Regions from separate parts of the Homo sapiens genome. Here region 1 is linked to region 2. Evidence: fine-mapped expression QTL. Tissue or cell type: tibial nerve. Region 2 holds a variant in brackets; the other region holds the start of a gene. All regions are shown on one strand. Distances are from middle to middle.

Region 1 (2,752 bases), 36 kb before region 2:
GGCAACACACAGTTTCCCACCAAAGTGCATCAGTGCCCCAGGCAGTCAAGGTGCCAGGAGACGAGGAGGCCGCGGATCTTCTGTCCACCTGGGAGCAAGCCTGCAGCTTGGGACCCTCCTGGGACCCTGCACCCGCCAGTGCCCTGCCCTCCTGGGCTCTCATGGGAGTGAAGGAGGGTGGGCTCTGTAGGAGTTAAAGAAAGAGGAAAGAAACATGAAAAGCGGCTCAACAAAGGCAGGTTTATTTTGGAGAATAAACCTGAAAGGGACTTCTGGCCGATTTTGGTCAGGAGCCATCTCTCCTACAGACTAAGGATCTTTAAGGGTTTAGGAAGTGGGGAGCTTATCGCAGGCTCGGAATGTTTCTATGTGAGGGAAAGTTTATTGCGGGCTTGGAATGTCTCTGGTCGGAGGGGAGGTTATCTCGAGGTTGGCATGTTTCTGATTGGAGATGTTATTTGTGGTTTACGGTCGTGCTGACATTAGCTATTGGGCTGATGTGTTTTGGGCTGGATTTAGGCAGCTTTTTAATCAAAGGGAACCTAAAATGGCGGTGTTTGTCCAAGAAGGCCATACTCCTGCTCTGTCCCGCTCCAGCCCTTGGGGGCCCCTCGGGCTCTTCTCTTGGATGGTGTGTGAATGGGCACATGTGGAGGGGCTGGTCCAGCTCTGCCTGCCTCTGGCCATCCAAAGGAGGGACAGCAGGGCCTGGGCAGCAATGCCGGCCTTGGAGCCCCGGGGCTGTGGAGGCTGCTTGACAGGACACGGAGCCCCCTCTGTGCTCAGGTCGTGGAGGGCCTCGGGCACTACGGTCTGCCAGGCACCACATGTCACAGCTACTCAAACACCCAGGGCCGCCACGGAGGGCCAATGGCCGCAGGATGGCTCAGGACCCGCCCCACCCCTGTCGCTGCCTTTCTGGCTGCCCCCTAGTCCCTGGACAGGCGCTCCCCAGCCCCAAGCAGGCCCCAGCCAATCTCCTGCCCAGGCAGGAGCTCCCCCTGCCGCCCTCACAGACCTCACCTCTTCCTACACGTTTCCAAGGCCGCGCCCCGCCCCGCACCCCGCCAGGCCCCGCCCCGCACCCCGCCAGGCCCCGCCCCGCACCCCGCCAGGCCCCGCCCCGCACCCCGCCAGGCCCCGCCCCCACCCCGCCAGGCCCCGCCTCTCTCTCCGACCCTGGACAGTCCCCGGGACCCACCCCGCCCCCAGGTCCTGCCCCCGCCCGCCTCCGCGGGGCCTCCCACCCTCCCGGGCAGACTCCACTCCCGCCCCCTCCCCGTGGGTGCCCCCGCCGGCCCCGCCCTCCCAGGCTGCCCCCGGCGCCCCGGGCCTCCTCCGCGCAGTCCCTGAGTCCCGCAGGCCCTGCGTCCCCGCTGCACACCCCCGTCCACTCCCGTGGTCCCCGGTCCGGCATGGCGCGCGCGGTGGGGCCCGAGCGGAGGCTGCTGGCCGTCTACACCGGCGGCACCATTGGCATGCGGAGTGAGCTCGGCGGTGAGTCCGAGACCCTGGGCGGGGTAGGCCTCTGGACCTGGCCGCGACCGGGAGCCTCGGACCCTCCTGCACCCACGGGGGTCGTTGGGGAGTCAAATCCGCGCCTGGATGGGGGGTGCGGGCTGAGGTCGCTCTCCTCCGGTTCCGGCCACCGGCGTCCCCACGCATGGAGCCCCGACCTGGACAGAGGAGATTGCGGTGGGTTCTCGCCGTCGCGGTGCTCCCGGGAGCGCCCTGCGACCCTGGGGCCAGGCCCCCTGTGCTGCCGCTGCGCCCCTGAGGGCCAGCGTCCTGAAGTCCTGGAATATGGGGCGGGAGGGCCCCAGGGCATTGGCCTGCCGCTCCTGCTCTGGACACAGAAGGCTTAGGAGGCTGCCCTGGAGAAGGCTTAGGAGGCTGCGAGGACCCCTCAACTGCGACACCCAGGAGGGTGTCCCCGTCCCCTGGGGTCCTGGTCAGGCAGCAGTGGTTGGCACGATACTGGGGCTACCTGGCATCTGCGGGGACGCACGTGTTCACACCCGAGGTGGCCTCAGAGCCCTGCTTCCTCTGCCCCTGTGTGGACCTGGTTGACCAGAGACCAGCGATTGCGTCTGGACTGAGTTCTGCCTGGGTGGGGTCAGGGCCTGGGACAGGCACCGAGCTCTGTGGTACTCCAGCACAGTGCTGCCAGCCTGGGCTGGGCACAGGAAGGATGGTAGCTTGGGGAGCCTGAGGCCACCGGGATGGGGAGAGGACGGTTGCACTGGAGCCTCCAGAATGCCTGGGTGTTCCCCAGGAGGGCAGGACACTGCCTGGGGCCCCCAGATGGGCTCTGCTGTGATGTGGGGCCTCCCTTGGGGCCAGGACAGCCCCCTCGCCCCGTCTTGAACCTGTTTGCGACCCTCCATGGGCCACTGCCTGCCTTTCCCTCAGGAGCCCTTTCCACTCCTCCTCCTCCCACTCCCTGCTGCCCTGGCCCCTCCCCACACTCCTGCTTGTGTCCAGCGCAGCTCTCTCTCCTGGGACGGCTGGGACCCTCTCCGGCTCTGCCAGAGCCCAGGGCCTCCCCTGGCATGACCAGAACATTCTCTTGTCCCTTGCCCATCTGCCAACCACTTCCCCGCCCCTCCTATCCCCACCCCCTCTCACGGCCTGTTCCCTGGCAGCTGCCCCTCCTGGCCACCCCTTTCTGCTGAAGTGGCTGCTCAGAAGCCACCAGCACTCTGTCGGTGCTCTCAGATTCCACCCACCACACTGTGGCCGGTGCAGACCC
Region 2 (2,752 bases):
TTGGCACCGAAACGTTCTTGGAATCTTCTGAGTCTGGGGCAAACTGGGACTGCTGATCACCCTACGTGGGACCAGCTCATGTACACGCTGCCCTACCCACTTGGACAGCTGAACAGCTTGTCTTTTCCACAAGAGAAAGGAACCTTCTGCCTTTTAAAGCCAGTGTTATTTTGGTCTCTGTTAAAGTAGCTAAACCAGTATGTGAAGGCAGGGGTTCTGACTCACTGCAGAGGCCCAGGCTCAGTGAGTAGGATGGGTGGCAGGGATCTGGGTCTTCACCAAGTTCCCAGGCGAGCCTGATAAATGCCCAAGGCTGACAGCAGCTGTCTTAGGCGAGAGACCTCAGGAAGAGAGACAGGCTGGGGGAAGGGGAGACAGGTCCTGAATCTGCAGCTATGGGTGGTGCCTGGCCTCTACTCCCTGGGAGCAGGAGCCTAGAGTAGAATTTGCATCTTAGCCTCTCTGTCCTTCCCCAGAGGAGTCCATAGCGCCCGCTGAACAGGTAACCTGCCAGGCCAGGGTCTGGGGGTGCCCACTCGAGGCTCATGGAATCTAATTGTATATGCAGGTCTCAGGCCATTTGTGCTGCTGTAACAAAACCTCTGAGATGGATAATTTATAAGGAACCACGAGAAATTTATTTCTTCGGATCTGGAGGCTGGAAGTCTAAGATCAAGGTGCTGGCAGGTTCAATAGCTTGTGAGGTCTCAGTCTCTGCTTCCAAGTTGGTGCCTTGCGTGGGTGCTCTGGAGGGGAGGGACACCATGTCCTCACACGACAGAAGGGATGAACAGCAGAAAGGATGGGAAGGGCAAACTCGCCCCCTCATGCCCTTTTATAAGGCACAAATCCTACCCATGAGGGTGGAGCACTCATGGCCTCCTCAGCTGCTGAAGGCATCAGCTCTTCATCCTGTTGCACTGGGGATGAAGTTTCAACATGAATTTTGGAGGGTCACAAGCACTCAAGCCATGGCAACATATTTGCAGTTGAGAATCATCAGAGGGAGGACAGATGATGGCTCCTTCCTGGGTGACTAGATAAGCCCCATGGGACAGCACATCTGTCACAGGGCTGTGGGGTCACTGTGACTGGCTTTCTGAGTATCTTTCCGTGGTTCTGAGGCTGCCCGGGGAGCAAAGTTGTGCTGGGAGGGCACACATACAAGCTGAGTTGCCTTGAGCCCGCCAGTCTTTGTCGGGGGTGTCACTATTTTTCTTGGGTTTATTGAAATGCCACTGACCTACAGTAAAGTGCACAGGTTTACAGTGTACAATTTGATGACTCTTGACATATATATGCACATCTGTGAAACCATGACCACAGTCAAGATGATAAACC[G/A]TTGACCAAACACAGCTACCTGCAGGGTTCATCCAGCCCTTGGTGATCCCTCTTTACTTCCCCAACTCCTCCCACCCCTGGAGTTTTCTTTGTTGGAAAGAACTCCAAATTCAACTTATTTCCTAGATATAGGAACATTCAGCATATCTATTTCTTCTTGAGTGAGTTTTAGTGATTGTTTCTTTTACAGGATTTATTTAATCTAATGTTGAATTTATTGGTATAAAGTTATGCATACTATTCCATTATTATCTTTGAATATCTGTAGACTGTGGTGATGAACCATTTCTCATTCTTAATATTAATTATGTGTTTTCTCTTTTTTTCTTGATCCATCTGGATAGAGGTTTATAATTTTTATCAATTTTGGGAAAGAACCAGCTTTTGGTTTTATTGATTTTCTCTATTGTTTTTCTGTTTTCTATCTCAATGATTTCCACTCTGATCTTTATTATTTCCTTTCTTCTCCTGACTTTGACTTTTATTTGCTCCCTTTTTCTAGTTTCTTTTTTAAATGTTTTATTTATTTGACATATAAAATTGTATATATTTATCATGTACAACATGTTGTTTTGATATACATATAATTATGGAATGCCTAAATCAAGCTAATCAATATATGCATTACTTTACCTACTTATCTTTTTTTGTGGTGAGAACACTTTCTTAGCAATTTTCAAAAGTACAATACATTGTTATTAACTATAGTTACCATGTTATACAATAGATCTCTAGAACCTATTCCTCCTAACTGAAATTTTGAATCATTTGACCAACACCTCCTCAACTTCTTTTTCTTAAGGTAGAAGCTGAGGTCACTGATGACCTTTCATCTTTTCTAATGTAGTCATTTTATTGCTATAATTTCCGTCTAAGCACTGCTTTAGCTCCATTATACAAATGTAGATGTAGTGTGCTTTCAGGTTCATTCACTTTAAGATACTTGCTAATTCCCGTTTTGAATTTTTCTTTGACATTTGGATTATTTAGAATTCCCTTCCCTTACCTTCTCTTCCCTCCCCTCCCCTCCCTCCTTCTTTCTTTCTCTTTCTTTCTTTCTTTCTTTCTTTCTTTCTTTCTTTCTTTCTTTCTTTCTTTCTTTCTCTCTCTCCCTCTCTCTCTTTCTTTCTTTCCTTCTTTCTTTCTTTCCTTCCTTCTTTCTTTCTTCTTTTCTTTCTTTTTCTTTTCTTTTCTTTCTTTTTTTGACGAGTCTGAGTCTGTTTCCCACATTGGAGTGCAGTGGCACGATCTCCACTCACCACAACTTCTACCTGCCAGGCTCAAGCAATCCTTCCACCTCAGCCCCTGAAGTAGCTGGGACTACAGGTGTGTGCCACCATGCCTGGCTAATTTTTGTAGTTTTTGTAGACATGGGGTTTTGTCATGTTACCCAGGCTGGTCTCAAACTCCT

Evidence for each region. PIP is the estimated chance that this variant, and not a neighbour inherited with it, causes the effect.
Region 1: ASPG starts here. The variant in region 2 is fine-mapped to the expression of ASPG in tibial nerve (GTEx, PIP above 0.99).

The regions. Positions count from the first base shown.
Region 1 is chr14:104,084,356-104,087,107 of GRCh38, forward strand. ASPG (asparaginase) reads left to right here and starts at 1,345. Exons shown (of 16, transcript NM_001080464.3): 1 at 1,345-1,497. The coding sequence starts at 1,416.
Region 2 is chr14:104,120,192-104,122,943 of GRCh38, forward strand. No RefSeq gene overlaps it. Among named protein-coding and RNA genes, the nearest start is that of MIR203B, 4.1 kb to the left of the region's middle. The variant G/A (reference allele first, on the strand shown) is at 1,342.